Homo sapiens: one gene and its partners. The protein of the gene in region 3 binds, or shares a complex with, the protein of the main gene of each other region. Each region holds a gene or a part of one and is shown on either strand. Other genes may lie near its edges. The genes, in order: MCM5, CDC45 and GINS4.

Region 1 (10,538 bases), on a different chromosome or scaffold from region 3:
GGCTGGCTAACGGCACGTGCTGCCCGAGGGGACTCCGACAGAGCCCAGACATCCCCAGGCTCACGGGGAACTTTGTACTCAGGCTCCTTTGACCTAAAGGGCCCACACTTCCTGAGTGCCCACTGTGTACCAGACACTGAGGCACACGGAGGCTAAGCCACTTGCTCAAGGTCACAGCAATTAAGAGGTAGAGCTGGGACTTAAGTCCCATCTGACTCTAGAACCGAAGCTCTAAACCTTTCTCTAAGCCTCAGTCTGCGCACCTATAGAATAGACACGATACCACCCATTAAACTGCCCTGAATCAAAATGAGATGATGTACAAGGAGCGGAGACCAGAAACTAGGATTAATCCTGAGATTTTAAAGGTGACAGGTTTTCCAGAGCATCTGGGAAATCCCATCTTCTCTCTATGGGGCCAACAGTACCCTCCTCAGTGAGCCAGAAAGCTCACTCTCATGGCTCTGCCCCTTCCCACTCCATGAAACGCCCGCCAACGGGGAAAGGCACAGACGGGAAGGGCTGCGGGGAACTTGTATGGGGTTTCACCAGAATCCAACCACCTCTGCTCTCCCCTCCCCTTCGTGGGACAGAAAAAATACCCCCATCCCTGCTCCTGATGAAGATGTCCCTAGGGAAGGAATGATGGCTAGAAAAGGTCTGAGAAAGGGACAGTTGTCCATCCTACCCCCGTTCAGGGCCTGTCTGCTGAGTAAGATGCCAGTGCTGAGTGGGTGGGAACCAGCAGAAGACCTGCACCCCGTGCCGGCTCACACCCCCACTCCAAGGCAGGCTCACCTGCTTGGTGAAGTCCTTGATGATGCTGTGCTCAGACACCTGGGAGCCAATGGCAAAGCGGCGCTTGAGCTGCTTCTCGATGCGGCTCAGCATCTCCTGGTCCTCCTGGCTGGTGAAGCCCTCCACCCCTGTGGGCATGGAGAAGTGAGGCAGCCGGGGAGCTGGGACAATGGGAGTTCTTGGACAGAGACAGCCTCTAGCCCAAGGAAGAACAGCCTGAGCCAGGCCCCGAAGAGTAAGTCAGAAAAGGGCACCGAGTGTGCCAGGGTGGTGCAGGCCTGATTGAGGAGACAGGATATGGCACATGTGGGGACACTCCAGGCCAAGCACAAAGTCACAGAGGCAGGAACACACCTGTCTCATTCAAAAAGCAGCCCGGGGCCCAGCGCAGCAGAGACATGGCCAGAGTGTCACTAGGGACCAAGTCCTGCGGGCCCTTGGAGGCCACAGCAGGACTCCTTTTGTTGCTGGAGCAGATAGATTAGAGAGAGAGTTGGAAGGGGCCCATCAGTGACCCAGGAGGGAAGCCAGCCTGCCCTGGACACATCTACGAGGTGCCCTGAGGAGCCCTCGGCAACCAGGAGGCTCGTGACTTCCAATTACTGCCACAGAGGCCTTGGTGTTTCAGCTAAGGAGATGGTGGGCTCATGGTCAAGAAGTCATTGAGAGGGGAGTCTGTGAGGCAAACTCCTACATAGCCCATAAGACCCAACTCAAATTATCACCACTCCATATCACCCCTGCCCTCTGTGCCTGCAGCATCCCAGAGGCCTCCACCTGCAATGTCTCATGTGACAGCAAGTGTCTCCAGGGTAGAGGCTGAGTCTTCACCAAGGGGGACAGGAGGAACAGGCCCCACCCACCCCATTCCTCACCCAAGTGCCTCCCCATTCAAATGCACCAAACCTGCTCCCTCCTGGGGAAACTGACACTTAGCGCTGCCTCCACCTGAGCAGCTCTTCCCCCAAGGAGCCACACTGTCCCCTTCATGCAGCTCCCTGCTTGGCATCACCTCCTTGCAGAGGCCATGCCCACTCACTCCATGGGAAAGAGCACGTCCTCCTTTTCCAACACACCTGGCCCTGCCATCATCTCCCTCACTGCCTTTTTCACTACCTACACTACCTGCATTTGTTTCTCTACTGTCTATCTCTCCCCAACTAGAACGAGAATGAGAACCCAGGAGGGCCGGGACCCTGTGATTGATTGCTCTTATACTCCCAGCACCTAGAACAGTGCCTGGCAAACAGTAACACTAATGAAGTATCTGCTGGGTGAAGGAACAGATTTTCCCCAGCGTAGGTAGCCTGGCTCATGATCGGTGCCTGGGACAGTCTGTTGAAAGGCTGACCGAAACCAGACAGTATGGCTTATGGTGTGGAAAACGCTGGCCTAGGGGCCAGGAGACTTGCATTCCAGCCAAGCGACTGTGATCTTGGGCACCAGGGAAAGGCCCCTTCGAGTGTCAGCTGTCTCATTTCTAACATGGGCAGGACTGACTGCTCACCTGGCTTCCAGGGGGCAGCTGTAAGGCAAAATGCAAGAAATAACTCTGGAAGCACTGAAAATGCTGACAAGCTCTAGGAAGCAGAGCATCAACTGTTGTTCCTAGCCAGTGAGAAGGGTTATCATCAATGACCTGGGTCAAGAGGATTGTGTTCAAGGGTCTGGAGAGAAGCTGCTTCTTCCCATCTTGGAGGAAACAGCGGTGGGGAGAAAGGAGGAGAGGGGTCTTATGGCAAAAAGAAACTCAGAGAAGCTCAGCAAACTCAGAGAAGCAAGACACACACTGCAGGCCCCCAGCAGGCCAGAGCCCTGCCCACAGAGCTCCGAGCCAGGGAACCCAGATCAATTGAGACCATGGCCCCTGCATCTGCTCACCTGACAGGGTACCGGACAAGGCAGCATCCAACGTGGACACTTGGAAGAGCCGCAGGGCCTCCTCCACATCTGCCTCTGTGGCGAAGGGCTGCAGCTTCATCTTGCTGAGGGCTTCCGCGATGCGCACAATGGCCTCCAGCTGCCTGTGGGGGCAACAGCGTGCTCAGGGTAGCCTCGGTCCGCTATTCCCTTCCTCCCCAGCCAGCCCGTTACCAGGGAGGTGCTTGCCCAAAGTGGTAAGACTGTGGTGGAGACTGCTAGGTGTCCCCATAATCCATCTCCCTTTTGATCTTAGTCATAGAACTGCAATTTTTTTTTTTTTTTTTTTTTTTTGAGACAAAGTCTCGCTCTGTGGACCAGGCTGGAATGTAGTGGCATGATCATAGCTCACTGCAGCCTCGAACTCCTGGGCTCCAGTGATCCTTCCACCTCAGCCACCTGAGGAGCTGGGTCTACAGGCATGCACCACAATGCCTGGCTAATTTTTTATTTTTTGTAGAAATGGGAGTCTTGCTATGTTGCCCAGGCTGGTCTCAAACTCCTGGCCTCAAGTAATCCTCCTGCCTCAGCCTCCCAAAGTGCTAGGATCACAATGTAGGCCACTGCACCTAGCTTGGAACCCCAGTTTTTAGTCTGGCACACAGCGATCCACTAAAACACATCCCAGACATCTTTTGTACCAGGTTGTATTTGTGTGACCAATCTATGGCAGTAAGTTGTAAGTCCAAGCATTGTGTGGGACTTCATGAAGTGTCCTTTAAAAGGGAAGCTCTCTTTCCTTCCTGTCCTGCTGCCTGGAGGTGATGGCTGAAGTTCTAGCGGCCATCTCGGACTAAGAGTAAGGGGGAGCTTGAGGAGTCCTCACACCAGTCCCCATACCATCTTCCTCCAGACAGTGCTACAGAAAAGAGAAATGAACTTCCTATTTCTTTAAGCTACTTTATCTGGATTTACCATTACTTATAGCCAAATCCATTTCCAACCAGTCAGTGCTGGAGACAGGATTCAAACCAGGTAAATCCCAACTCTTACCCACTGTATTGTCTACAAAGTCACAAGAATGAACAGAGTTAGGAGCTAAAAGCACTGAGGGCCAGAGAAGGAATGTAATTTCCCTACAGTCACACAGTGGGCTAGAGGCTGGGACCCAAGACTCTTGACTCCCAGGCCTGGGTCCTTCCCTCCCTTCGGGCTTCCTACAATGGGAGAAGCCAGGCCAAATTCAGACAAGAGGGGTCTAGGTTTGCCCGGCCTTAAATCAAGAAACATGGATCATCATTGAGATCAAGGAGGCCATAGTTTATGCTCCAAAGGGACTCTTCCTGCCCAGAGCTACTATGGGCCTGTGCCAAGTGAAAAGCCTGGACCACTGCCCCTGGTTGCCAAGCACACCCTGCTGTGTAAAGCAAGCCCCATCTGCCATGGCCCAGCCCTGCCCGCCTGCTCACCGCACAGTGATGGGGATGCTGGAGCGGCGGTCACTGTCCCTCTCGTGCTGACGGGCCCCGCTCCGCATGATGATGTAGCGGTTCTTCAGTTTCTCTGCAGCCTCTGCTGACAGCCGGGGGCCACACTTCCTGCAGGACAGTGGGGAGAGGCTGGTGTGAGGCCAGGAGGGACTCTTAGGGCACCTACCCTTTCCCCCAGCCCCCTGCCAGCTTACAGACATGCACTTTCCCACCACACCACAGCTGCCCACTCATATGGGCTGGGGGACAACAATCGGAAAAGATTTAAGTGAAATCTGGCTGTGGGCAGCTGCCACAAACATCAACACTGGGGAGAAATATGGGTGCCTCTCTTAAAAAACAGGTGAAGAAAAGCCAGGCACGTCTGCAGGGTGAAAACCGCCTCTTCCCCACTGTTAGACGCTGTGTGGTGTCTTGCCACAAGGTCCCCCATACATGTAATGAACAATGGCACAATCACAGCGGCATGGAGGCCCACTGGGTGGTGGGCTTTGCAGCAGTCTCAAACTCCTCCACCCAACACATCTGAAGACACGACAAGCTGATGACACCCACAGGAGGCTTGGCGGTGACTGCAGTCCAGGGGCTGGGAGCACCTCAGACTCTCCTGGGACGGTAGGTGTGGGGAAGTCTGATCAGCATCTACCCTATCCCATCCCCTCCCCTCTAGCCCCCAGGCCAACTGACAGTCACTGATGTAGGGAAAGCCTTAGCTCAACCATCCTAAGGATGTGGAGACTGAGACCCAGAGGGAGGGAGGGAACTCCCCAAGGCTACCTGGGGACTTAGTGCAGAGGGAAGATTAGAATCCAGGGCTCCCTGACTCACAGCTGTGGGCCCAAGCCTCTCAAGACTGGGCCACACAGAGCTCAGACTTGGATGAAGACCCAGGGACTACCCACTCACCCTGGCAGAGGTGCTGAATCAGGGACCCACCAGCCCCCCACTGGTAGTGCATTCAAAGAGCCCTCAACCCCTGGGTTTTAGCTCCTTCAAAAGATCACCAAAGCGCTGTACGACAAGAATCGAAGCACTGTGGTTAAGAGCACAGCCTCTGGAGGCAAGCAGCTGGGTTCACATCCTGGCTCCACTACCTCTGGCATGTGACCTTGGGCAAGTTACTTAACTTCCTTTGCCTCAGCTTCCCCATCCATAAAGGGAAGGGAATAATAGCACACCTTACCTGGTAGGTTTTGGGGGAGGGTTATAATTTATTCATATAGAAAATACTGAATAGTAATTCAGAATGCCTGGCACAAAGAAAGTAGTGTGTAAGAGTGAGTGTGTGTGTGTGTGTGTGTGTGTACACATATATATATATTTTTTTTTTTTGAGACAGAGTCTCACTCTGTTGCCCAGGCTGAAGTGCAATGGCACGATCTCAGCTCACTGCAATCTCTGCCTCCTGGGTTCAAGCAATTCTCCTGCCTCAGCCTCCTGAGTAGCTGGGACTATAGGTGTGCACCACCACACCCGGCTAATTTTTGTATTTTTAGTAGACATGGGGTTTCGCCACGTTGGCCAGGCTGGTCTCGCACTCCTGACCTCAAGTGATCCACCTGCCTCCGCCTCCCAAAGTGCTGGGATTACAGCGTGAGCCACTGCAACCAGCCAGTACTATGTATATAATTATTATTATTGAAAATCTGTGAGAACAATCAAATTGCAGCTGCGACTCACTGAGTATTTACCCAGGGCAGGGCTATGCCAAGCACTTACTCATCATCTTGTGCAATCCTTACAAAAATCCTAGCAAACATCGATAGGCCTGGGGAAATCAAGGCTCAGAGAGGCCAACCAACTTGCCCAAAGTCATAGAGTGAAGGCAGGTATGACCCAGAGCCCATGTCTACCATGTCTACACTTCACTGCCTCCCTGCATGTCAGACTCGAGGAGGTCTTCAAGACCATCTAAATCCCACCTCCTTGGTGTGGAGGTGGGAAAACTGAAGCCAAGAGCCAGTGAGCTACGCAAGGTTAGAAGGGAGCAGAGCAGATTCAGTAGAGCTGAGAACCTCAGAACAGCAACATCTGGGCTGTTCTTCATGAGGAGGAGCAGGACCAGGGGACTGGGTTCTCTCCCACCCAGGGAAGCTGGGCAACCTCACCCCCGTGGGCCTGCGTCCAGGACTCACACTCGGCAGTAGGCAATAAACTTCTTCAGCTTGGCCAGGTCAATCTCGCCCTCCACAGCCTGTGTCTGTGTCAGTGCGCTCACGTGCAGAGTGATGACATGCTTGGCCAGCATCTGGAGAGCAGAGGGGATAATGGGTCATCCCACAGGCCGTCCCAAGCCTGAGTCCCAGCACTGAGGTGGAACAGCCAGAAAGAGCTGATGGGGCCCTGGCATCAAGGAGCCGGAAAGGGTGCTGAGATCTCAGGCGTGCTCAGCCTGTTTGCTCAGCACCAGGCCCTCGTTCTGATGGGAGCATCTGGATTCTCCTTTAGAGAGAACTTAATGCTCCTTGCTCCTCTGCCCTGGTCCATAAAGGGGTGGGTTCAGCTTGTCCACCCCGACTTGGGGCATGTATCTTGTCCACCCCAACTTGGGCATGGACATAGGATCTACCCAAGCCAATAGGAGTCTATCCTGGGACTTTTGATAGAAGTACTGGAAAAGACGGGGCCTCCTCTTTCCTGGGGGCTGTTAAGCTACAAGCTAACAGGACAAAATCTTATTTTGTCTTTGCCACCACAAGAGGAACAGCTGCCCAAGTACAAAGATTCCACCAAGGGAAGCAGAACAGAAAGGCAGAGACAGTTGTTTGAGAATCCAGATCTACCTGGGCCTTAAGCCGCCGGACTTACCAATTCTATAAACCACTATGTTTTTTTCTTTGAAAAATTTACTAACCAGAACTGAGGTTCTATTACTCATAACCCAATGTCAACTCCTCTGTTTCATATATAAGGGACTGAGGCCCAGGGAGAAACTGATTTAGCCCAAATCACACAGCTTATCACTCACGGCAGAGGCAGAGCAGGCCACAGGACTCCAGACCCTGCTTCAATCCTCTGCAGTCCACAACAACCGCCCTCTCACGTGCTCCCCAATTTCACAGCCTGACAGTCAGGACTTTGCCAGCCAAGGCCCTTGTTCTCCATTCTCCTTCCCACACAATCACAAGCCTGCCTGGAGGCAGGTCCCATGGCCACCAGCCCTGCCCCTGGACGTACCACATCCCTCTCCTCATTGTGCTCATCCTTGACGATGAAGATCATGTCGAAGCGCGACAAGATGGTGGGCATGAAGTCAATGTTGTCCTCCCCCTTCGTCTCATCCCAGCGGCCGAACACTGAGTTGGCAGCAGCCAGGACGGAGCAGCGGGAGTTCAGGGTGGTGGTGATCCCAGCCTAACAGGCGACAGACGACGAAAAGGGGGAGGAGATGGCAAAGATGCCTTCTTATATACACGTTTACACACACACACACACACACACACACACACACACACACACACACACACACACACACACACAGATTCTAGGCCTGGGCAAAGAGAACTTGGTCCCAATCAGGGCAGCCTGAGGACGGTTGGGCCACGCTGGGCTGCTGCAGGCTGGGCTCTCCATGGAGGGCCACTCACCTTGGCGATAGAGATGGTCTGCTGCTCCATGGCTTCGTGGATTGCCACACGGTCATCTTCTCGCATCTAAGTGGGGAAGAGAGAAATATCATCAGACCTACTGAAGTGAGGGAGCAGGGAGCAGTAGAAACAGGAAAACTAACAGCAGCCCTCACTCCTGAATACCAGCTCCACGCAAGGCCAATGGCAGCAACCAGGTCACCTCTAATCATGGGAACAACTGTGTGGGCTTGCCTTTCTTCTCCCCACTCTTCAGATATGGGAACTGAGGCTTGAAGAGGTTAAGCAGCTTCCCACAGTTACTAGAGTGACCGGCCCAGGGATTGAAAACATGTCTCCCAAGTCAGAGGTGATTTCTGCTGGCTGAGCACAGGAAGTCACATACCCTGGTGCCACCCACCTTTTGGCTACTACCCACCTCATCAGACTCACCTTGTCAAACTCGTCAATACAGACGACCCCACCATCGGCCAGGACCATGGCTCCGCCCTCCATGATGAAATTCCGGGACGAAGGGTCCCTCATCACCGAGGCTGTCAGTCCAGCTGCGCTGCTGCCTTTCCCAGACGTGTATACCTGGGGCAGTGGGGTGGTGTCAGGGCCCAATAACAACTCCATGCTTTGACCCCCATAAGACAAAAAGACCCACTGAGGTTGTGATTTGCCCAAGGTCACACATCAAAGCTGGCTGCAGGGTACAGAATAGGACTCAAGGCTCCAACTCAGTGCGTCTCCCTCTGGAAGGGGATGCTGCCCTGGGCCTCGGTGTGCCCAGATGTTCTCCCCGCTGAGGGCATCACATCCATGGCTCACCTAAGCCTCACCACAGCCCTGTGACACAGTCTTGTGAGGCCCAACTCACAGATGAGCAAACTGAGGCCCAGAGAAGAGGAGTTAGCCTCAGGGCTAGGATGAGGACTCCTGACTCCCAGGGAAAGCCTGCCCCCATCGTGAGTCCCTTGTCGTCTCTATATAGACCTACACGCCACATACTGCCATAGAGCCCCTGAAATTGGGAAAGTCCTAACTGAGATGTCCTTAATCGTGCAAAATACGCACGATTTCAAAGACTCAGAGCTCCTAAGAATGTAAAGTATCTCAATAATCTACATATCAAACAACATGTTGAAATGAGATTTTAGATATAGCGAGTTAAACAGAAGTAACTTCACCTGTTTTTCCTTTTTTCTTTCCCCTTCTTCCTTTTAAATTGAAACGGGGTCTTGCTATGTTGCCCAAGCTGGTCTCAAACTCCTGGGCTCAAGTGATCCTCCCACCTCAGCCTCCCAAGTAGCTGGGACTACAGGTATGCACACAACCGCACCCAGCTACTTTTTAATGTGGCTGTTAGACAATCTGAGAAGACATACATGGGTCGCATGTGCAGTTCACTATTTCTACTGGACAGTGCCAGTGTGGCAAATTTGGCACACTTCCTATCTATCCAAAGACCACCATCTCGCCCTATACAACCCCGCCACTCGGATCATGTCAGACCTTCTCTGGCTCTGATCCCCGCAGACCCATTCAACAACGCAGCAGAGGACCCAGCTCATCAGACACTTGGGTTCAATCACATCCTGCTCTAATGCTTACCAGCAGTGAGACCTGGGCCAAGACACTTACCCATTCTGTACCTGAGTTTTCTCACCCCTAACACAGGGGTAATAGTACCTGCCACACAGTTGAGGTGAAGACTAAGTAAATATATGCAAAGTACTTCAAGCAGTGTCTGGCCCTTCATTTTAGCTATTATTATTATTATTATTATTTATTATTATTATTTGAAACATGGTCTCACTCTGTCACCCAGGCTGGAGTGCAGTGGCACAATCTTGGCTCACTGCAACCTCCCCGTTCTGGGCTTAAGTGATCCTCCCACCTCAGCCTCCCAAGCAGCTGGGACCACAGGTGCATATCACGCCTGGCTAGTTATTTTGTATTTTTGGTAAAGACAGGGTTTCACCATGTTGTCCAGGCTGGTCTCAAACTCCTGAGCTCAAGCAATCCGCCCACCTCGGCCTCCCAAAGCGCTGGTATTACAGGGATGAACCACCATGCCCAGCCAGATTTTAGCTATTAATGATAACAATATCATTATTTAGCAAATGGATAAACTGACGCTCAGGGAGATTGGGTGACTTACTCAAAGCCCACAGCCAATTTCTGGCCAGGGTGAGACCCAAACCCCATCCTGACTCTCAGTACAGTGTACTCGCCCCCTGCCCCAAACCTACATACACCTGTTGGCTCCCTTCTTCCTCCCATCTCCTCGGCCATCCTGACCGCAGCCAAGAGAAAGGAGGAAGAGATTCCGGGTGAGCCAGCCCACCACAGGTGTCCTGAGGACCCAGAGGCCCTGCCCTGCAGCCTTCCTCCCTGCAAGCCAAGGTGGCAAAGGTATCCCAGGCCACTCACCCCAATGGGAGAACACTTCTCCACAAACTTCAGAAGCTGGGACTTGGCTGTCCCAGGGTCCCCTAGCATCAGCAGGTTGATGTCTCCTCGGCGAGTAAGTCCATCAGGGAGCCTGGGGGACGAAGGGTAGATGGACAAGGTGAGAATCCATGAGGGCATCGCATGTGACATCCAGTCACCAGATTGGTGGGCTGGCAGTTGACTCCCCCAACTATCATGGGCCTCAGAGTTGGTAAGAAGGTAGTGGCTGTGGCCTGAGACCCATGTTCCTACCCAGCTCTGTAGTTCCCAAACCATGGTAGGTCTTGCCTAGCAATGAGGACAGAGCTTGCCTCCCAGAAGAGGAGGGTTAAAGGAAATGGCTCTTATGGCTGTGCTCGGGTAC
Region 2 (10,538 bases), on a different chromosome or scaffold from region 3:
GCAGTTCCCAGCCCGAGTCCTCCCTGTATACTGAAGGCCAGATATTCTGCAGGCCAGTGGGTGTCCATCCACCTCTCCCACATCACAGGCACAAAAGAGTTAGCAGGGGCTGCTGTGCGGGGTGAACCAATGCCACACAGTGCCACAGCCATGGCTGGGTCTGGCTCAAGGAAGGCAGCTCTGAGATGGCTGACGCCACTTCAACAAAGGCTGGATCTCCCATGACAGTGTCTATCATTGTTGAGGAATCCGTGGTGATGAGGCAAGAAAATATCCTTTCTCAGAGGTGCAGGAAGTACTGAGGGTGTTATGAGCTGAACGGTCTCCCCCACATCTCTATGTTGAAGCCCTTACCCCCAGGACCTTAGAATGTGACTATGGTAATTAAGTTCAAATGTGGTTGTTAGGGTGGGCTCTAATCCAATCTGTCTGGTGTCCTTGGAAGATGAAACGGTTTGGACACAGACACCAAGGAGGTATGCAGAGGAAAGACCACGTGAGGACACAGTGAGAAGGTGGTCATCTGTGTGAGCCAAGGAGAGAGGCCTGAGGAGAAGCCAGCCCTGCCCCACCTTGACCTGGGCCTTCTCGCCTCTAGGACTGGGAGGAGACACGTGGTTGAAGCCACCCTGTCTGTGGCACTTTGTTATGGCAGCTTTAGCAAACTAACCCGGGGTGAAATATCAATACGTCTGTTTTACTTTAAAACCTGTCAACAATAATAAGAACGCCAACACAGCCGAATGTGAACCATGTTCCGTGCTGGTGCTGGGGAAGCAGTGGGCAGGCAGGCCTATCCATTCTGGGCTCATCTGACACACAGGTGGGGCCGGTGTCCCAGCCATCTCACAGGTAGCACCTATCACGACACACACCCCGGCCTGTGGAGAGGTGGCTGGCGCAGCAAGGGTTGGTGTCCTGGGTCATCACGGGCCCTGCTGTTCCCTCACCCCATGAAACAGAAACAACCCAACCCTGACAGGTGAGATCGGGGCACACGGGCCCTGGTGGCCAGTCCCCTAGGCTTGCTGGGAAAGTGATCCTTAGCACTGGCTGTAAGGCCGCTGTAAGGCCACAGCCAGGCCAGTCATTCCCTGGAAAACACTTTTTCCCTCTCAGGGGCCTGAGGTTCACCAGAGCTCCCTGAGCCACCAGGAGTAGCCTGTCCCAGGGCCAGATCTGGAAGGTCAAGAGGGCTGCTGGCCAGGCTCCTCCAGCCATGCCAACTTGCTTGGTTCCAGGGCCTGCAATAGCCTCAAAGGGTCAGGTGGGAAAGTGTGGCAGAGTGGCAGGAGACTCTCACCTGAGAGGTCAAAATGGTTGTGCAGCATCCGGGAGCTGGTGCTTTCCGCTGCCTTCTCAAACGCCCTCCCAAAAAAGCTGCTGACACACAAGACATGTCGGGGGCCAGGCGGCCTGCAATGGACCCTTCCCACCCCCCGCCCCAGGACAGACACTAGAGGCAAATACCACTCTACTCAGCAGGGCTAATAAGCTGATAACCCCAACACCCCCGACCCTCCAGTCCCAGGACGAGTGGAAGCTGCTCACTTCTTCCTGTCCGAGCTGTCGGTCTCTGGGGGGATGCCCACCACGGTCACTGTGCCATGCTCCATGCTCAGGGGGGCAGCCATCACCAGGGGCAGCAGTTTGCAGCGCCGGTTCTTTGTCTATGGAGTCGGAGAGCACCCTCCGTCAGGGTATGGTGGGCCCCAGCTCAACACTCAGAGCCCAGAGCCCAACAGCGCCCAGTCACTCCACTCCCCAAAGCCTCCAGGGACGCTGTCACCAGGAGACGCCTTGGTCCCCACCCAGCCACCCCAAGTTAGATGCCCAAGGCCAGTGTCTAACTCCCAGTCCAGGGAGCTCTCCAAACACCTGCCCTCCCGTACCCACAGCATGGTACTGTGGCTGTGATGCTGTGTCCCCGAGCCTCCTTGTCTACCAGCCTAGCCCCACTGCCCCTTGGCTGTTTGTTGCAAGGAGCCTGCCCTGCTATCCTCTCCCTCACCTCCTTCAGGTCCTGCAGCAGCTGCCACCTTCTCCAGGAGGCCCCAGCCCACCCCGCCTCATCCTGCTCCATCCCCTGGCAGCACATCCCCTCATCTTAACCGCAGCTGCCACTCCTCGTCCCCCCCGCCGGCACGCTCCTTCAGGATAAAGGTTTAGGGTTTCCTTCTCTGCTGTGCCTGCTGCACCCACACCCTACAGCCCAGGTGACCAGTATTCCTGGTGTGTCTAGGACTGAGGGGTGTCCCAGGATGTGCACCAGGATGGGCAGTCACTCCACAACAGGGCCGGGCAGGTGGTGGATGTTCAATACATGTCTGGTAAATGAATGGATCCTGTAAAGTGGGTATGTGTTCACCCATTTCACGGATGAGGAAACTGAGGATCAGGTCAGATCATCTACCTCACGTCACACAACTGGCAAATGAGGAGGCTCATCTTTGAACACAGCCTAGAGGACGTCAAGGCCCATGCTCTGTCCCTAGTTTATCTTTGACATTACCTGGTTGATAGAACACATGTCATCTGTCATCATTTTACTGGTTAGTTCAGCGGCAAAAGAAAAGTTCAACTTCCTGTTAGCACATTTTGTTTGAAATAGCCCCCGGCATAAACTCTCATCCTCGAAGCAGAGGAGGACTTCAATTATTGACATGTCACATCTGGGAGGAGCCCCATGTCGGCTAGGTGAGGACCCCTGCCCTAAAGCCAGCCAAGTTAGGAGTGTGTTCCACGCCAACGCAAAGAGGGGGTTAGGCCACACAGAAGACAAAGCCAGGCACAGGAAATCAGCTTAGTGGACAAGCTGTTGCTGGGAAGCCAGTCGGTGCTACAACCATCCCGCTTTCCCTGACCTGCAACAATAGGACACAAGCCCCAGCCCTGTTCACTCTGCAAGGGCCCCTCCCTACTTGTCTGAGTGACTTAGACAGCCAGTGATGAATCAGAGCTTGAGAGAACTGGAAGGTTCCTAGGGGTCAGCTGAGAAAAAGACAGCTCAGAAAAAGTAATGGATGTGCCTAGACCTTGCAGCTGGTCAACAGCCACAGGCACCCCAAGGCCAGCATCTAACTCCCCATCCAGGGAGCTCTCCAAGCACCTGCCCTCCTGTACCCACAGCACCCGCCTGGCCCCTCACCGAACACACAAAGGACTTGAGCAGGTGTTTGCTGAGCAGGCTTAGGGATGCCGGCCTAGAGAACAGCATGACATCTGGAGTGCCCTGCGGAGGCGAGACAGATGGTCAGACGAAGCCACTGGTGCTGTGACCAGGCGCCTGTGCTCTGTGGGAAGCCTGACCTCCATGAGAGAGCAGTACAGGAAAGGCCCCTGGGAGATGACGAGGTTGGTGCAAAGGCAGCTGGCAATGGTCTGCTGGGTGGCTCGCAGCTGCTTCTTGGCGAGTTCCAGGCCATGGTACAGCTTGTCCAGGTTACTCCTGTAACAGGGCAGACACATGGCTTTGGTGGTGCTTGTCAGGAACTCTTGGTAAAATACCAAAGTCACAAATAGTTTGCTTGGTTCCTGGTTCAGGAAGAGGTTTGGGGGTAAGAATTTATCTTCTTTCCCTCCTGAGTTGTCTTTCACATGAAAGGAAAGAATTTTTTAAAATGTATAAACCCACAGTAATGCAAATGAGAGGTGGAGCGGGTGCAAGTATCAGAAGACAGGAAACTAAAAGCCAACAAAGGGAAGATCCTGAAGGCCCAGGAGGACTCTGACACAGGGGAGGCTTGGGCAAGGGCTGGAGGTTGGACAAGGGATCCCCTCAAACCCAACAGATAGATTTTTACTCTTCCCCACAAAAAGGGAGGCTCCCCTCTGAGTATATGAAATGTACCATCTGTGAATAAGTAGAATCCTCAAGCAAAGCCTCTGGGCCCTACAGTGGGGAGTCCCAAAGTGTCACAGTTGGCTCCTGCCTGCTAAGGTGAAACGATGTCTTATGACCAGTGAGCTGTGCCCAGATACCCATGGCCCAGCCAAGGGTCCACAATCCCGTTCTTGAATATGAAAGACATCAGACCATTTGAGAAATGCCTATGGCCTAAAAAAATAACCCTGAAGAAACAGATAATTTGGAGAACTAAAGAAAGTTAAACTGAACTCTAATTAGTATCTTCAGAGAGATGTGTGCAACTCTTACATTCCTAAACCAAGAACAGGATGCTATGAAAAAGGAAGAGTTAAAAACTAGGAAATGTTGATGGAAATTAAAACAGTTGCAAAAGATAAAACATCCACTCCAAGTCTGGAGTCAAGAAAAACTTCCTCAACATAGATAACAAGACAAAGCTATGGAAAATGTAAGGCAAAAAAATAAGACAGAGCATCGTCATTCCAGGAAGCCTGAAAAGCAAGAATAAAAAACACGGATGTTTTCTGTGGGGGGAATAGTAAAGAAATAGTAAAATAAAGATATTGTCAGATATATAAGAACTCAGAAAGTTTATCTCACATGCGCCCTTTCTTTGAATGTTACTTAAGAACTGTGCTCTAATTTAATGAGGGAGTAAATGAAACAAAGATGAAGATCCCAAGAAACATTGGACTAAACTAAGAGGCACAGCCAAGATTTGGACATCCATGGGGACAGTGGAAAGCAGGTCTAGAGAGCTGTAGGTCCAGGCTGTGGTGGGAAGACAGAACCCCAGACTCTCCAGCAAAAAGGGGCTCACAGAAAAACAGCTGGAAGGAGTTTGGAGGAGAAAAAAATGGATGTGATAAAGGAGGCAATTAAAAACAGCAGGAAAAACAAAGAGCCGTGCCAGATAGTAATCTATTACTACACATGATTGTCTCTGGAATAGTTTATTAGCACAATAAAGTAAAACTATTTGTTTACTTTCAACTTTTAAAATCAACCTGTAACCAAAGATAAGACAATTTATATCTTTTTCTCTAACCCAAGATTGTTATCAGTCTTGAAAACGTAAAAGCACAAATTTCAGAAAGTACTGAGCAGCACTGAAGAGCAAAGTAAGGCTGTTTCTACACCTTGGACATTTGTCCCCTCAAAACCTCATGTTGAAATCTGATCCAAGATCTTCGAGGTGGGGTCTAGTGGGAAGTGTTGGGTCATGGGTGCAGACCCCTCATGAATAGATGAATGCTCTCCCTGGGGCTAGGGGGTGTAAGTGAGTTCTTACTCTATTAGTTCCCGTGACGGTTGTTAAAAAGAGCCTAGTACCTTCCTCCTCTCTCTTCCTTCCTCCATTGCCACATGGTCTCTGCACCCACCAGCTCCCCTTCTGCCATGAGTGGAAGCAGCCTGAGGCCCTCACCAGATGCAGATGCCCAATCTTGAGCATTCCAGCCATCAGAATTATGAGGCAAATAAACCTTTTCTCTTTATAAATTACTCAGCCTCAGGTATTCCTTTATAGCAACACAAAATGGACTAAGAGTGTTTTAAATATCCTTTTCTTACAAAGTAGGGAGACGAGATACTAGTGATGAAAGAAGACATAAATATGTTAAAGTTACAAAGAAGTTAAAAATAGTGGCAAAACTGTACCAACAGGAGGGAAGGTGGACAAGAGTGGGATAAATGCTCCTTTGTCATAGCAGGAAGTTGGTAGACAATGTCTAAAGCCTACCCATCAATGCTGGGATGATGGCAGCAACAGTGGTAAAATAGTTTTTGGATTTTCCCAAATTTCTAGATAAAAGTAGAGCAACTAGATTGCAAAACCAAAAACCTAGGACCCACATTTGCAACAAATTAAGAGAACAAGGGAACACTTCAAACCCCAAAGTGTAAGCAGGTAAAAAGAGACCATGAACAGCCAGACAGGTATACTATCTACATCAGTGCGAGAGAAAGCCAAGAGGTAGTGAGACCTAAGAAGACTTAAAACTCCAGGCAACTGGAGAGCAGCGGCCCAAACTGAGAGTTTTGCCCTATGCAAGAGCAGGTGAGTGCAGTGGGCCAAGGGAAAGTTTAAGGAGCCTCCCTGGAGTGCAAGGAGTCCTGGTAATGAGCAAGGGGTCCTGTTAAACAGCAAGGGAGCCTGGTAAAGTATAAGGGGGCATGGTAAAGAGCAAGGGGCCTTGCTGAAGTGTAAGGAGACTATAGTAAAGAGTAAGGGGCCCAGCCTGACCAACATGTCTCTACAAAAAATACAAAAATTAGCCAGGTGCAGTGGCACATGCCTGTAGTCCCAGCTACCTGGGAGGCAGAGGTTGCAGTGAGTGGAAATCATGCCACTGCATGCCAGCTTAAGTGACAGAGTAAGACCCTGTCTCAAAAAAAAAAAAAAAAAAAACCTCCAGTGAATCATACTCCTAATGTAAGGGCTAAAACTATTAAAGTGTTAGTAGAAAAAATAATGTGAAATCTTCATGACCTTGGGTTAGGCAATGGTTTCTTAGATATGACACCAAAAGCACAAGAAACAAAAGAAAAAGTAGGTAACTTAAATGTCATCAAAATTAACAAATCTTATACTTCACAGGACACTGCCAAAGTGAAAAGTCAGCCTACAGAATGGGAGAAAATACTTGCAAATTACTTATCTGATAAGGGATTTGTATGTAGAATATATAAAAGTTTTAGGCTGGGCACGGTGGTTCATACCTATAATCCCAGTGCTTTGGGAGGCCAAGGCTGGAAGACTGCTTGAGCCCAGGAGTTTGAGACCAGCCTGAGCAACATGGTAAGATCTCATCTCTACTAAAAATTTAAAAATTAGCAGGTGTGGTAGCTCATGCCTGTAATCCCACCTATTCAGGAGGCTGAGGTGGGAGGATGGCTTGAGCCAAGGAGTTTGAGGCTGCAGTGAGCCATGACTGCACCACTGCACTCCAGCTTGAGCAACAGAGTGACACCCTGTCTCAAAAAAAAAAAAAAAAAAAGACAAAGGACTTGAATAGACAATTCTCCTAACAAGATACACAAATGACCAATAAGCACATGAGAAGATGCTCAACACTATTAGTCATCAGTAAAATGCAAATCAAAACCATAACGAGATACCACTTCATACTCACTAGGATGAATGTAATCCAAAAGATGGACAATAACAAGTGTCGGTGAGGATGTGAAGAAATTGAAACCCTCCCTCCTGGTGGGAATGTAAAATGGTGCAGCTGCTGTGGAAAAGTCTGGCAGTTCCTCAAAAATCTGGCAGTTCCTTGAAACCTAGTGTTACCATGTCACCCAGCATTTCCACATGTAGGTATATAACCAAAAGAAACAAAGACATGACTACACAAAAACTTGTACATGCAAGTTCACAGCAGCATTAGTCATAATTGTCAATAGGTGGAAACAAACCACATGCCCATCAACTTATGAATGGATAAATGAAATAGAATATATCCATCCAATGGAATATTATTTATAATAAAAAGACACTGGCCGGGCATGGTGGCTGATGCCTGTAATCCCAGCACTTTGGGAGGCCGAGGCAGGTGGATCAAGAGGTCAGGAGTTCAAGACCAGCCTGAACAACACGGTGAAACCCCGTCTCTATTAAAACTACAAAAATTAGCCAGGCTTGGTGGCATGCGTTTGTAATCCCAGCTACTCGGTAGGCTGAGGCAGGAGAATTGCTTGAACCCAGGAGGCGAAGGTTGCAGTGAGCCGAGAGCGTGCCACTGGACTACAGCCTGAGCGAGAGTGAGACTCTGTCTCAGGTGGCGGACGAGGGAAAAGACATATAATCCCGATACATCCTACAATATAGATGAGCCTTGCAAATATGATGCTAAGTGAAGAACCCGGTCACAAAGAACCATATCTTATATGATCCCATTTGTATGAAATGCTCAGAACAGCCAATTCATAAAGACAAAAGGGAGACTGGTGGTTGCCAGAGGCTGGGAGGATCTCTCTGGGGCAACAAAAATGCTCTAAAATTAGATAGTGGTGATTGCTGCACAACCTTGCAAAACCTAACTGCAACCTACTAAAAGTCATTGCAGGCTGGGCACAGTGGCTCATGCCTGTTCCTCCCAGCACTTTGGGAGGCTGAGGTGAAAGGATTGCTTGAGCCTAGGAATTTGAGACCAGTCTGGGCCACATAGTGATACATCTTTACAAAAATTTTTAAAATTAGCAAGGCGTGGTGGCATGCACCTGTTGTCCCAGCTACTCAAGAGGCTGAGGTAGGAAGATTGCTTGAGACTGGGAGGTCAAGGCTGCTGTGAGCTATGATCATGCCATTGCATTCCACCCTGGGCAACAGAGCGAGACCCTGTCTCTAAAAAAATAACAATAAAATAAATAAAAGCCATCACATTGTACATTTTAAATGGGTGAATTGTATGGCATGCAAATTGTATCTCAATAAAGCAGTGGAAAAAAAAGTGTGCTTGGGAGCAGAACCAGGAAATCCCAGAAAGCAGGCCCCCATATATACATATGCATCTTTACCACTGCACAAAAGCAACAGAAGTGGCAGCTCTGTGAAGCCAGAAAAGCTGTCTGAATCATGCCTCCTCCTCCTAAAAAGTCAGGGAAATGAAATTTATACATAAAAAGCATGAGAGAAGTAGCAAAGTCAAATCCCCTCAAAGTCACTATTAGAAAAAAAGAGAATAAGGGACAGAATAACACCTCTCTGGATAATGAAAGTACACTAATGTGAAAGTTGCAGATCCCAGGATGAAATCACTTTTTGACAGGCCCAAACAAATTAAAGCTGGGAAAGCACCAAGGAGAGCTCCTGCTTGCATGTCTGGAATAAAGACTCAAAGACTTTCTAAATAACCCCACAAGAAATCCCTTCTTTAGGACTGCAACAATTCAGATAAGATGCTCTTAAAATATAACACTTGCCCAGTAATGCATCTTCACCACTGAACTGACGCCAACTCTGGCTCTGAGTCTCTGAAACCAATGAATTGTTTCCAAGCTAGCTTTCGTGAACTTCTCCTTTTGCCAATAAAAGTGTCCCCTTAGCCTCCTCTCTTTGGATGCATATTTGGCTTGCCATAGCTGTGCATCGCAGACACTATAATCCTCTTTTCTAATTCCCAAATAAATTCAGTGTATTTGGAGATATTTTTCTCTGATGTCTTTAGTCTGACACTAGACAGACATGCTAAAAAAAAGATCCAAATTGTCACATTCCATTTCAAAACAAGCGAAAAGACATGGAAAAATATAGGACATCTCAGGAAGTGAGATAAGAAAGAATTGGAAAATTAAAAAATTGAGAAATGACAACTATAAGATTAAACACAAGAACGAATATACATAACAAATAATGCCTTTTGTTAAGAGATACAAAAGGTAAAAAAAGAGAAAATTTTAAAAATCAAAAAGAAAAAAAAGCCAAAAAAGATTCAAGAGAAAGTGACAAATACTGAAGAGGGGCAGGTAATGTGTCAGGTGCACACCACACTGGCACTGTGATTCCAGTTCACCCAAGCAGTTTCTGCAGGACACAGTCACTCCCACAGCCCTGGGGTCCCCGTAACTGACCTCCCTGGGCAGTGTGAGAACCAGTGGTGGCCCCATGAGGCAAACCCACAGCCCTCCTGCTACCTGGAGAGGCTGTCCAGAGCCTGGATGAAGTGATCTGTCCCTGAGCCATCCTTCTCGGGGCTCTCCATCAAAGACATGGTGGCAAAGACCACGTCGCTGGCCAGAAACTTGTGCTTGAACCCAAAATGAATGCTGAAAGTCTGCACGCGCATGTCCTTCATCCTGTCATGGGAGCAAACACAGCTGTCACCCTCAAATTGTGGGCAAGCTCTCACTGCCAGGCAGGCCAACAGATGTGCTAATGTCCCTCACAGGCCCAAGTCAATGCTTCCAGCACAGCCATGCTGCTCAGAGGATGAGGCAGGTCAGAACGTCCAGACATACCAGCCCTGCAGCCCAGAGTGGCCGGGTGCCTTCTTGTCAACAGCTTTATGGCTGGCTTAGGGGGTGTGTGGGGTCCTCTCTCACACCTTAGCATGCCAGCTGGCTGGGGTGGGAGAAGCCAGGGGCCTCCAGGAGTGCCCATGGACTTGGTCGGGCAGAGTTCACCTGAACCTGGCCCTGTGGCCCATTTGCTGTCTCCAGTGAAACAGACTGGGGTCGACCTCACAGGTCCCACAGCAGCCCTAGGATCCAAGGATCCTAGGATCCTAAACCTCACAAGCTTGAAGAAGTCTTATTTTTAACCCAAAAAGAACTCAAGACTTCAGGAATGGCCAGACTCAGATAACACTCATTTGTACATTCTCGGGTTGTTGTTTTTTTTGCATTATTTTAGGAGCACGTTGGTTTTTTTTGCATTATTTTAGGAGCACAGTTAAAGTAGAACCCTTCACTTTAATGAACCTGGATGTAATGAAGATAAATCCAGAAAAATGTGTGTTTACCCAAATTTATTTGCAGACTCTTCAATCATTTCCCGCAAATTCTCCTTCAAGGAGATGTCCATGGCCTGGAACTTCTGCTTCACCTGCTTCAGGGGAAGACTGGAAAGAGCAAGCCCAAGCCACATGAGTGAGGTCACCACACACCGACAGGGTGGAAAGAAACCCAAACCAAGGGCAAGCGAGGATGTCCCCGCACCAGCATTCAG
Region 3 (10,538 bases):
CTTGGTGGACAGAAGTAAGGGGGAGGCTTGTTTGAGAAACGGATACCTGACCTAAGCCTTGGAGGAAGAGGCAGACACTGGAAAACTAGAGTCCCTGCGTTCTCTCACCACTTGCTAAAGGGCCTCTACAACCCCAGGAAACCTCAATAAACCTTTCCTTTCTCCAGATAGATGTCTGTTCTTGCAGATAATTAGAAAACGCATTGCAGAGTATTGGTTCTTTCCCTCTCATTAGGTTCCTGGTTTCAGAGAAGATGACCGAAGAAGTGGATTTCCTGGGACAGGACTCTGATGGGGGTAGTGAGGAAGTGGTCCTAACTCCTGCAGAGCTCATTGAAAGATTGGAGCAGGTAAGCATCCCAGATCGAATCCCTTTGCTCCAGTCAGCCTTTTTATTTAGTTCAACTGTGAATATCAGGGATCACAAGATGAGGAAACGGAATTTGGGGCTTACTTTAGAACAGGGACTGGATCTTACCATCTACATGGAAACGGGAAGCAAGAAGGACATCCTCTGTTAGAGACCTCATCATATCAAACACAGCATCCCCAAGTGGGGTCAGTAAGGGACAGCTTTGGGCACATTCAGTGAACAGTTCACAGAGCAAGGATCCACGTGATATTTTCAGGGACTGTAGAGGTCCCTGAACTTCTTTACCTTAGTCCCTTGAACATCTGCTGTTTCCCTGGAGAATGCCTGTTTAGCAAGAAAATGCTGAAATGCCTGTAAGGGAAAACTGGTCATATTTTTCCTTTTTCTCACATGTTTTTTCTTGAGTCGTCTGCTCTCCATATGTCCACTGCTTATCTAAAATCCTTTCTGAAATATTTCTCCTTTAAGTTGTAATAGCTATGACTTACTGCATATTTCCCATGTGCCAGTAACTGTGTTCTTTACACTTATATCTCATGATGCTCTGGTAACAGGAGTTCAGACTATCTGGATTTAAATCTGTCTGTGACACTCCTCTGTTATGTGATCTTGAGCAAGTTAGGGAGTTTGTCTCAAGCCGTTGCTTGCCTATAAAATTGAGACAATAGGGCCGGGCACGGTGGCTCAAGCCTGTAATGCCAGCACTTTGGGAGGCTGAGGTGGGCGGATCACCTGAGGTCCAGGAGTTCGAGACCAGCCTTACCAACATGGTAAAATCCCGTCTCTACTAAAAAACAAAAATTAGCCGGATGTGGTGGCGCATGCCTGTAATCCCAGCTACTCGGGAGGCTAAGGCCGGAGGATCACCTGAACCTGGGAGGCAGAGGTTGTGGTGAGCCAAGATCCTACCCACCATTGCACTCCAGCCTGGGCAACAAGAGTGAAACTCCGTCTCAAAAAAATAATAAAATAAAATTGAGATGATAATAGTGTCTATGTCCTGGAGTTTTTGATTAAATGTGGTAATTGTGTAAAGCACTCAGCATGCTATCTGACACATGATAAGCACTCACTAGATGTGAGCTGTTCATAGTAAGTATCCTTATCCTCTTGCTCTAACTGCCCCTTTCCAGAGCTCTCTCATGTTTGCTACTTTAGTATTCTTCATTCTTCCCTGCCATACATGATATCACGAATGACAAAACGGAACTAAAATGATTTTTAAATTATACCTTACATGATAATCCTTACTATTTAGCAGTGATTCTTAATCTGTTTTTATATCACAGACCTTTTTGAGAAACTGGTAGAAACTGTGGTCTTTCATCCCACAATAACGCACACATGCACCCATGCAGAATTTTGCATATGACTTCCAGGGGATCAGAGATCCCCTGAAATCCACCCACAGACCTAGTTTGTGGAACAGCATTAAGAATTCCTGGTTCGTTAGGAAAGGGTTCATTAAACAAAAATCAAAAGGCACATAGCATAAAGGAAAAAAGGGATACATTCCTGGAGTGCAGTGGTGTGATCTTGGTTCACTTGCAGCCTCCACCTCCCAGGTTCAAGCGATTCTCCTGCATCAGCCTCCTGAGTAGCTGGGCCTACAGGTGTGCACCACCACGCCTGGCTACTTTTTGTATTTTTAGTAGAGATGGGGTTTCACCATATTGGGTTTCGCTGTGTTGGCCAGGCTGGTCTTGAACTCCTGACCTTGTGATCTGCCTGCCTTAGCCTCCCAAAGTGCTGGGATTACAGGCATGAGCCTCTGTGCCCAGCCTGTTTGTACTTCTGGATTAGAGTGAAAAGACAGGCCACCAGGCTGGGAGAAGATATTTGCAAAATACTAATATGTAGCTGACACAAGATGATTATCCACAGTACATAAACAGCTCTTTCATACTGCCCAGTACAGACTGATACCTCAGAGAAGAAGAAAACAGGATGACCAATAAGCATATGAAAAAGATGTTCAACCTTTTTAGTAATCAGGAAAATGAAAATCATGAGATATCATCTCATATCTATCAGATTGGAAGAACTGAAAAACGTGAGCAATATAAAGTATGGCAAGAATGTAGAGCAGCTGAGCGCAGTGGCTCATGCCTGTAGTTCTAGCAACTCAGGAAGCCCAAGTGGGAGGTTCATTTGAACCCAGGAGTTTGAGACCATCCTGAGGATCATAGCGAGATCTTATCCCAAAAAGAGAAAATTAAGAATATAGGGCAGGCCGGGTGCGGTGGCTCACACCTGTAATCCCAGCACTTTGGGAGACCGAGAGGGGCGGATCACCTGAAGTCAGGAGTTCAAGACCATCCTGGCCAACATGGCGAAACCCCGTCTCTACCAAAAATACAAAAATTAGCCAGGCTTGTTGGCATGCCTGTAATCCCAGCTACTCAGGAGGTTGAGGCAGGAGAATCTCTTGAACCCAGGAGGTGGAGATTGCAGAGAGCCGAGATCATGCCACTGCACTCCAGCCTGGGCAACAGAGCAAGACTCCATCTCAAAAAAAAAAAAAAAAAAATGAAGAGCAATTTGCACACTTATATACTGCCGTGGGATATAAATAGGTATAATCGCTTTGGAAAATAATTTGTTATTGTCTAGTAAAGATGAAGGTGCACATACCTGCGGCCCAGTAGTTCCACCCCCAGGTACATACCTAGTGAAAACTTCCGCATGTACTCTAGGAGACATCCACAGTATGTTCACACATTGCTTGCAATAGTTAAAAATTAAAATAACCTAGACAACCGTAAACAAATAGCATTGAGAAAATATACCATACACAGTGGGAATAAAACAGCAGTGAAAATGAGTAAAATAACTCCTGAAACAGCATGAATAACAGGAACTTAATGTAGAACAATAACAACCATAAAATATGAGCTGCCAAAGAAACACTTTATGTAAAGTTCAAACTTGCAAAATTATTGTTCAAGGCAGAGCCGCCACCCTTGGGTGATGTGGCACACTGCTATGCCACAGATGCCTCTGTGTGGACCCCTGCACCTTCCAGGACAGCTGGAGCCCCAGGCTGGTTACTTTTTCAAGTGAGCATCATCGGGGTCCTTGAAAGGCAGCTAGAGGATGGGGCGGCGGGGGTTCTGACAGCACAGCTGCAGCTTGCTGGTGGGTAAGCTGCAGTAACATCTCATGCCTGATGCTCTAGTGCAGTGCCCTGAGTGCAGCCAAGGAAGTGACCCGCCACCTGCACGGCTGCCACAGCCAGATCCTGTCTCTTATGCTGTGTGGCACAGCCAAAGGGACAGCCTGACAGGGCTGCTGATGAGAACAGCTCCAGGAGCATATATAGGATACCCTTTAATGCCTGTAAAAAGTGATTTAAAAGTTGTTACCTGTAGTGCAGATTTGCTCATTTTAGTGATTGTTTTAGTTTGCTAGGGCCACAGAGCGAAGTCCCAAAGACTGGGTGGCTTAAATAGAAATTTATTTTCTTAATTCTAGAGGCTGAGGTCAAAGTGCCAGCATAGTTGTCTTCTTCCGAGTCCTCTGTCTTGGGTTTGTAGGTGACCATATTCTCCCTGTGTCCTTGCATGGTCTTCCCTCTCGTGTGTGTCTGTGTTAAAATTACCCCTTATCAGGGCACCAGTCTTACTGGATTAGGGGCCATCCTAATGACCTCATTTTAACTTAATCACTTCTTTAAAGACCTCCATCTCCAAATACAGTCACGGTCTGAGGTCCTGGAAGTTAGGTAGATTTTTGAGGGGCGGACACACTTCAGCCCGTAGCAATAATGAACAGATTGGCATTTAGAATTTTGATCAGGGGCCAGGCACAGTGGTTCAAGCCTGTAATCCCAACACTTCTGGAGGCTAATGCAGGGGGATGTCATGAGGCCAGGATTTCGAAGACCACTGTAGGCAACATGGTAAAACCCCATCTTTATTAAAAAAAATTTAAAAATTAGCCAGGCTTTGTGGTATGTACCTTTAGTCCCAGCTACTCTGGAGGCTGAGGCAGGAGGATCACTTAAGCCTTGGAGGTCAAGAATGCAGTGAGCCATTATCATGCCACTGTGTGACCAGAAACCAGATGTAGCCATTTCAAGCATAAAACCTGAGTTAAAAAAAAAAAAAAGATTGGATTTAGATACAAGTTTCTCAGTAAAAATTTTGGAAAGATTTATATGAAAGTTTTATACTAATATAAACTTCCACCTAATGTTTTATACTTTATTGTCATAATTTCATAATGTAAATGAAGTGGTCCCCAATACTACCCCAGTGTACCAGACAAGCACTATCATTTTCTTTGAATATCCTGTCATGAACAGGTTGAGAGGTGTTCTACAGAGATATGAACAAATGTAGTGAGACCATAAAGAAAATTCAACATGAAATTCAAGCTAATGATTACCTCTGAGGAGGGAGGGACACACAGGGTCTTTTTTTTTTTTGAGATGGAGTCTTGCTCTGTTGCCCTGGCTGGAGGGCAGTGGTGCAATCTTGGCTCACTGCAACCTCTGCCTCCCAGGTTCAAGCAGTTCTGCCTCAGCCTCCCAAGTAGCTGGGACTACAGGCGTGCCACGCCCGGCTAATTTTTTGTATTTTTAGTGGAGACGGAGTTTCACCATGTTAGCCAGGATGGTTTGATCTCCTGACCTCGTGATCCGCCTGCCTCGGCCTCCCAAAGTGCTGGGATTACAGGCGTGAGCCACTGCACCCGGCTTGTTCTTGTAGTTTTAAAAATTATTCAGTATTTGGCTGGGCTCGGTGGCTCACGCCTCTAACCCCAGCACTTTGAGAGGCCAAGGCAGGTGGATCACTTGAGGTCAGGAGTTCAAGACCAGCCTGACGAATACGGTGAAACCCTGTCTCTAATAAAAATACAAAAATTAGCTGGGCATAGTGGCACATGCCTGTAATTCCAGCTACTCGGAAGGCTGAGGCAGGAGAATCACTTGAACCCGAGAGGCAGAGGCTGCAGTGAGCTGGGATCATGCCTCTGCTTTCCAGCCTGGGCAACAGAGTGAGACTGTGCCTCAAAAATAAATAAAAATTATTCAATATTTAATAAAAATCAATCAAAAAGAAATGCTGCTCCTAATAAGCCCTCCAGAAAATATGATGTTTTCCCATGCATTATGCAGGTTTTTTTTGTTTGTTTGTTTCAGTCTGCAGGACTGTTACAGATGCTCAGGCTCTGCACAAATGCCTATGACTGTAGCCATACCCAGCATTTGGTAATGTGTCTTGACGGTGATCATGGGGAGAAGCAGACACTCAAGGACGTCAGAAAAAAATAAGTTGAGCCTGGTCAGCATATAATTCTGAGCTATGCTAAAACTACATTTCCTGTAATTGAAAGATAAGTGTAGCTTTCCTCAGTCACTTAGGGATATTTCAGTTCTCTAAGCCTTGGAAGTCTCTAAAATGAACCAAACAGCTGGGCCTGAGTCATAAATTAGAGCTTTAACCTCTGGCTCCAAAACTCCATAATAGATGAGCGCCTGTTTCTATTATGATCCTGTATACTTTGGGGCCATTAGTAAATTACTCAATCTGTATTTTTTCAATCAGATGAGGATAACTATATCCATTTTCTCTGAGATATGATGATGATGAATGAAAAATATTTGTGAAGTGCTCTGAGCTTCAGGAATGAAGAGCTGTGTGGATTGGTGGGTTATTGCTTTCTCTCTAAATAGACATGGGGTGGCGCTGCCTGGGGGAACAGTGTGCCCGGGCTGCCTGGCAAAGGCACTATTTGAACACCAGGTGGTGTCACTCTCAGCACCAAGCGTCACACTAACTGAAGTAAGCAAGGGTTTGTATGAGTGTCAGTTGAATAGAAGGTTGTGAACACAGCCTCCCAACTAAAACAAGACACGAGAAAGCAATCGCTAAACGTAGTTTGTCTTCAAAACACCTTCAATGTTTCCAGTTGGTGGGCAGACAGTTTTCTTGCCTGCGCCATCCCTGGTTTTCGTTGGACTTGGGCTGACTCACTGGGTTGTTTAGCTCTGTGGTGGGTGATGCTTGCTTTTTCTGGCATTTGTCTTTTAGGCCTGGATGAATGAAAAGTTTGCCCCTGAGCTGCTGGAGAGCAAGCCTGAGATTGTAGAATGTGTCATGGAACAGCTGGAGCACATGGTAAGAGTCGCTTGTCTTGGGTTGACAAAGGAGGAGAAAGGTAAAAGCATTTGGTCAGCACACTGAGAGCTTGTGGTCTGGTAGCAAATCTGTTTTGTTTGGCTCCACTCACAGTCCAGTTCTTTAAAACAACATTGAATTAGTTATCTATGTTTATCAATCTTGAGAGTGCCTGTAAATATCTGGATATTGGCTTCCCATGAAAAGTCTAAAATCCTGCATTTCTGCATGAGAACAGTTGACCAGAGCAGTCCCATGAGAGCTGTCCATCCATGTACTCCCTGCTCCCCACAGCCCCTGACTACCCACCCTTCTCTTGTAGCCTCCCCACCTGGCCCCTGCAAACATTTGAGTTTGTGGTCCCTGGCCTAGATGATCTGAGCATAAATCATTGTCAACTTCAGAGAAGCTGTAAAATGTGGATATTTCAGTTTCTCAGCTGGTGTTTTAATACTGCTTTTTAGACCCAATGGAAGTTTCGTCTGTGTGCTGTACTATCTCCCTTACAATCAGATTGGAGTTCTTTTGGAAGCCTCTGGCTGAACAGATTCTATTCAAATGGTCATTTTCTAAAAGTAAATGACTATTGTTTGTACTTTATACAATGATAAAATGAAAACTCACATGATATTTTTGTTTTCCTTGGACTGAAACATAGTCTGGGTCCTCAACGTTGCCGGTGATGATGGTTGAACATCATGTTTTTTATAAACCTTAATTTCTCATTTAATAGGAAGAAAATCTCAGGAGAGCCAAAAGGGAGGACCTGAAGGTCAGCATCCACCAAATGGAGATGGAGAGGATCCGCTACGTCCTCAGCAGCTACTTGCGGTGTCGCCTCATGAAGGTTTGACGTGGAGATACCTGGAGGGATTGAGACAGCACAGTCTGTAATGCAGACTGAATGTCCTGGGGAAAACTTGGGCTGGGGCCCAGGAGGGTCCAGGACCTGAAGATGCTGCTAAGAGCCCAATATCCATGTAGCTAAACTGTAAGGAGAGCGAGAGATTGCTCCACAGAAGCACAGAGGAACGTGTGTGGCCCACTGCGGGGACACCGCACACATTTTTAGTCTGTTCACCTGCCGAGTGAGTGGTTCCCCCTTGCGTTACAGCATGGCAGTGCTAAAGGGAGAGTTGTTGGCATTGGTCAATAGTGAATGCTGACTAGAGGAGAACTTGTTTCCAAAATTATTTTGTCTGTCAGATGGCCAACGTCAGTGTCAAATGAACCAGGATGACTTACATTCACCTACAGCTTTGTGGCTATCTAACTTACAAAAATGAAGTTGCAGGCCAGGCGTGGTGGCTCACACCTGTAATCCCAGCACTTTGGGAGGCTAGGCGGGTGGATCACCTGAGGTCAGGAGTTTGAGACCAGCCTGACCAACAAGGTGAAACCCCATTTCTACTAAAAATAAAAAAATTAGCCAGGCGTGGCGGCAGGCGCCTGTAGTCCCAGCTACTCAGGAGGCTGAGACAGGAGAATTGCTTGAACCCAGGAGGTGGAGGTTTCAGTGAGCCAAGATTGTACCACTGCACTCCAGCCTGGGCAACAGAGCGAGACTCCGCCTCAAAAAAAAAAAAAAAAGAAATTGCAAAACATTCCTAGTTTATAACTCTGAGAAATTCTTACTTCCTTGACATTTCATTTGGTTCTATGTGTCTCTTTAGTTATTACAAATAAGATAAATTATCTCTTCTACATGAGAATGCTTCAGCTATCTGAAGACTGCCCACAGTCTCCTCGAAGTCTTCTCTCAGGCATACATTTTAGCCATTCAAACCATTTACTCTCCTGGTCTCTTCTCTAAAAGGGTTCTTGTTTGTCTCTATCCTTCTTAAGTTACACTATCTTAAACTAAACACAGTATCCCAGTTGTAGTTTGACCAAGTTTGTGAAAAACAGAATGATCATTTCTCTTATTCTGGTTATTAAGCTGGTAGTAATGCCAACCACATCACATTAGCATATTTATCACATTAGCATATTGACAGGTACGCTGCCTGAGCTCATTCTTCACTCACGTGGACACTAACCCCTTTTAAGATGATAATTACCCCATCCAGTCACTGTCCTCTACTTGTATGGCTTAGGTTTTGGCTCCTTAAGTGTAGGGCTTGATACTTATCTCTCTTAAGCTTTATCTTATTAAATTGGGCCATTTCCCTTGTCTCTGGATGCTGATCTTGTCACCTAATGTATTAGCTGTCTCTTAATACTTTATGTCATCAACCCCCTTTTTTTATTTGTTTGGTTGTGTTTTTTTGTTTTTTTTGACAGAGTCTCACTCTGTTGCTCAGGCTGGAGTGCAGTGGCGCGATCTCAGCTCACTGCAACCTTCGCCCCCCAGGTTGACGTGATTCTGTTGCCTCAGCCTTCCAAGTAGCTGGGATTACATGCCCCTGCCACCAGGCCCAGCTGATTTTTAGAAGAGACAGGGTTTCACCATGTTGGCCAGGCTGATCTCGAACTCCTGACCTCAGGTGATCCACACCCACCTTGGCCTCCCAAAGTGCGGGGATTACAGGCATGAGCTACTGTGCCTGGCCCACATAAGGTTTTTGATGGCATGCTTACCAAAGCTGGTGATGACCAGTTACAGGCTCACGCCTATAATCCCAGCACTTTGGGAGGCCAAGGCAGGTGGATCACCTGAGGTCAGGAGTTTGAGACCAGCCTGGACAACATGGTGAAATCCTATCTCTACTAAAAATACAAAAATCATCTGGGTGTGGTGGTGGGTGCCTGTAATCCCAGCTACTTGGGAGGCTGAGGCCGGAGAATCACTTGAACCCGAGAGTTGGAGGTTGCAGTGAGCTGAGATCACACCACTGCATTCCAGCCTGGACAACACAATGAGACTCCATCTCAAAAAAAAAAAAAAAAAAAAAAAACCTTATGTGATTATTAATTGGACTGTGGCAAGGGTCTTTCACAAAAGACTTCCCTACAGTTTGACATCTACCCATTGAGTCAGCATTCTTTTTTCAGCCACTTAGGAGTCTCCCAATCCAAGCCGTCCCCTAGCCCCAGGTCCATAGCTTGCCTGCAAGGGTGTCTCAGAGACGTTGTCCTGTGTCTTATGGTGTGTCTCTCCACCCACCCTATCCCACCTCCAGGCCACATGTCCTTCCTCGGGAGGGTTGTGTAAACCCTCTTTATGTTAACCACATCCTTCTCTTTGACTTTTGCCAATGTTTTCATGAAGATTTTGCTTTATCCTCACAGATAGAGAAGTTTTTCCCTCATGTCCTTGAGAAGGAAAAAACACGTCCTGAGGGGGAGCCTTCCAGCCTCTCGCCGGAAGAGTTGGCCTTTGCCAGAGAGTGAGTGAGTGAGCCGTTGGCGTGGGGCACCTGGCTGGTTCAGCATGAGGCCTGTCCTAGAGGCCTGTGCGCTGCTGCCTGCTAACCTTGGACGTCCATCAGCTGTGTACACCACAGCGATTTGAATCCATGTCTTTCAGGTTCATGGCGAACACAGAGTCCTATCTGAAAAATGTCGCCTTGAAGCACATGCCCCCTAACTTACAGAAGGTGGACCTCTTTCGGGCAGGTAAACAGGACGTTCTCCCTGCAGGTGGCCCACCCATCCTCAGGTGTCCCAGGGTAGGATCCTCTCTTCACTGTTTTTACCCAAATACAAAAAAGTAAGTATGTAGATAAACAGAAAGAAGAGCAAGGATTCTAGCTAAAAACCAAAAAAATCACGGAAAGCAGATCCAATGGTAGGCATTTGAGCATTGCTTCCTTGTTCCCTGGGGTGGGCTGAGCCCCATGACTGCACTGGTGCTTGTAGACTCGGGCATGGAGCCGCGTTCGCCTTCAGTAGCCATCTGCTGAGCCTCTGTGAGGTGCTGGCAGCCCCGAGTACCAGCACTGCAGAGCCTACACCAACATTGCCCCTGCTTAGAGGGGCTGGCCATCTCTTCGTCACAGGTCCCAGAATGCACAGGGCTCGCCTAGCTGGAGGGGAGGGCTGAAACAGGAGGCTAGGGAGACCTCCAGTGAGTCCCTGTGGCCTCAGAAGAGGGAGCA

The links.
Region 1: GINS4 (region 3) and MCM5 share a complex: the UniProt entries of both Homo sapiens proteins name them as parts of the CMG helicase complex.
Region 2: GINS4 (region 3) and CDC45 share a complex: the UniProt entries of both Homo sapiens proteins name them as parts of the CMG helicase complex.

Annotation. Positions count from the first base shown.
Region 1 is NC_000022.11:35,413,602-35,424,139, reverse strand, and holds part of MCM5 (DNA replication licensing factor MCM5), read right to left. Parts: intron 10,266-10,538; coding exon 10,154-10,265; intron 8,312-10,153; coding exon 8,168-8,311; intron 7,802-8,167; coding exon 7,736-7,801; intron 7,503-7,735; coding exon 7,326-7,502; intron 6,397-7,325; coding exon 6,284-6,396; intron 4,257-6,283; coding exon 4,128-4,256; intron 2,823-4,127; coding exon 2,680-2,822; intron 927-2,679; coding exon 799-926; intron 1-798. UniProt on the Homo sapiens protein: Acts as a component of the MCM2-7 complex (MCM complex) which is the replicative helicase essential for 'once per cell cycle' DNA replication initiation and elongation in eukaryotic cells.
Region 2 is NC_000022.11:19,507,659-19,518,196, reverse strand, and holds part of CDC45 (cell division control protein 45 homolog), read right to left. Parts: intron 10,432-10,538; coding exon 10,333-10,431; intron 9,668-10,332; coding exon 9,506-9,667; intron 3,449-9,505; coding exon 3,310-3,448; intron 3,233-3,309; coding exon 3,149-3,232; intron 1,671-3,148; coding exon 1,552-1,670; intron 1,384-1,551; coding exon of another isoform or gene 1,381-1,383; coding exon 1,304-1,380; intron 1-1,303. UniProt on the Homo sapiens protein: Required for initiation of chromosomal DNA replication. Core component of CDC45-MCM-GINS (CMG) helicase, the molecular machine that unwinds template DNA during replication, and around which the replisome is built.
Region 3 is NC_000008.11:41,529,949-41,540,486, forward strand, and holds part of GINS4 (DNA replication complex GINS protein SLD5), read left to right. Parts: intron 1-235; 5' UTR 236-254; coding exon 255-350; intron 351-4,356; exon of another isoform or gene 4,357-4,462; intron 4,463-6,411; coding exon 6,412-6,498; intron 6,499-7,122; exon of another isoform or gene 7,123-7,231; coding exon 7,232-7,345; exon of another isoform or gene 7,346-7,362; intron 7,363-9,729; coding exon 9,730-9,827; intron 9,828-9,967; coding exon 9,968-10,056; intron 10,057-10,538. UniProt on the Homo sapiens protein: Required for correct functioning of the GINS complex, a complex that plays an essential role in the initiation of DNA replication, and progression of DNA replication forks.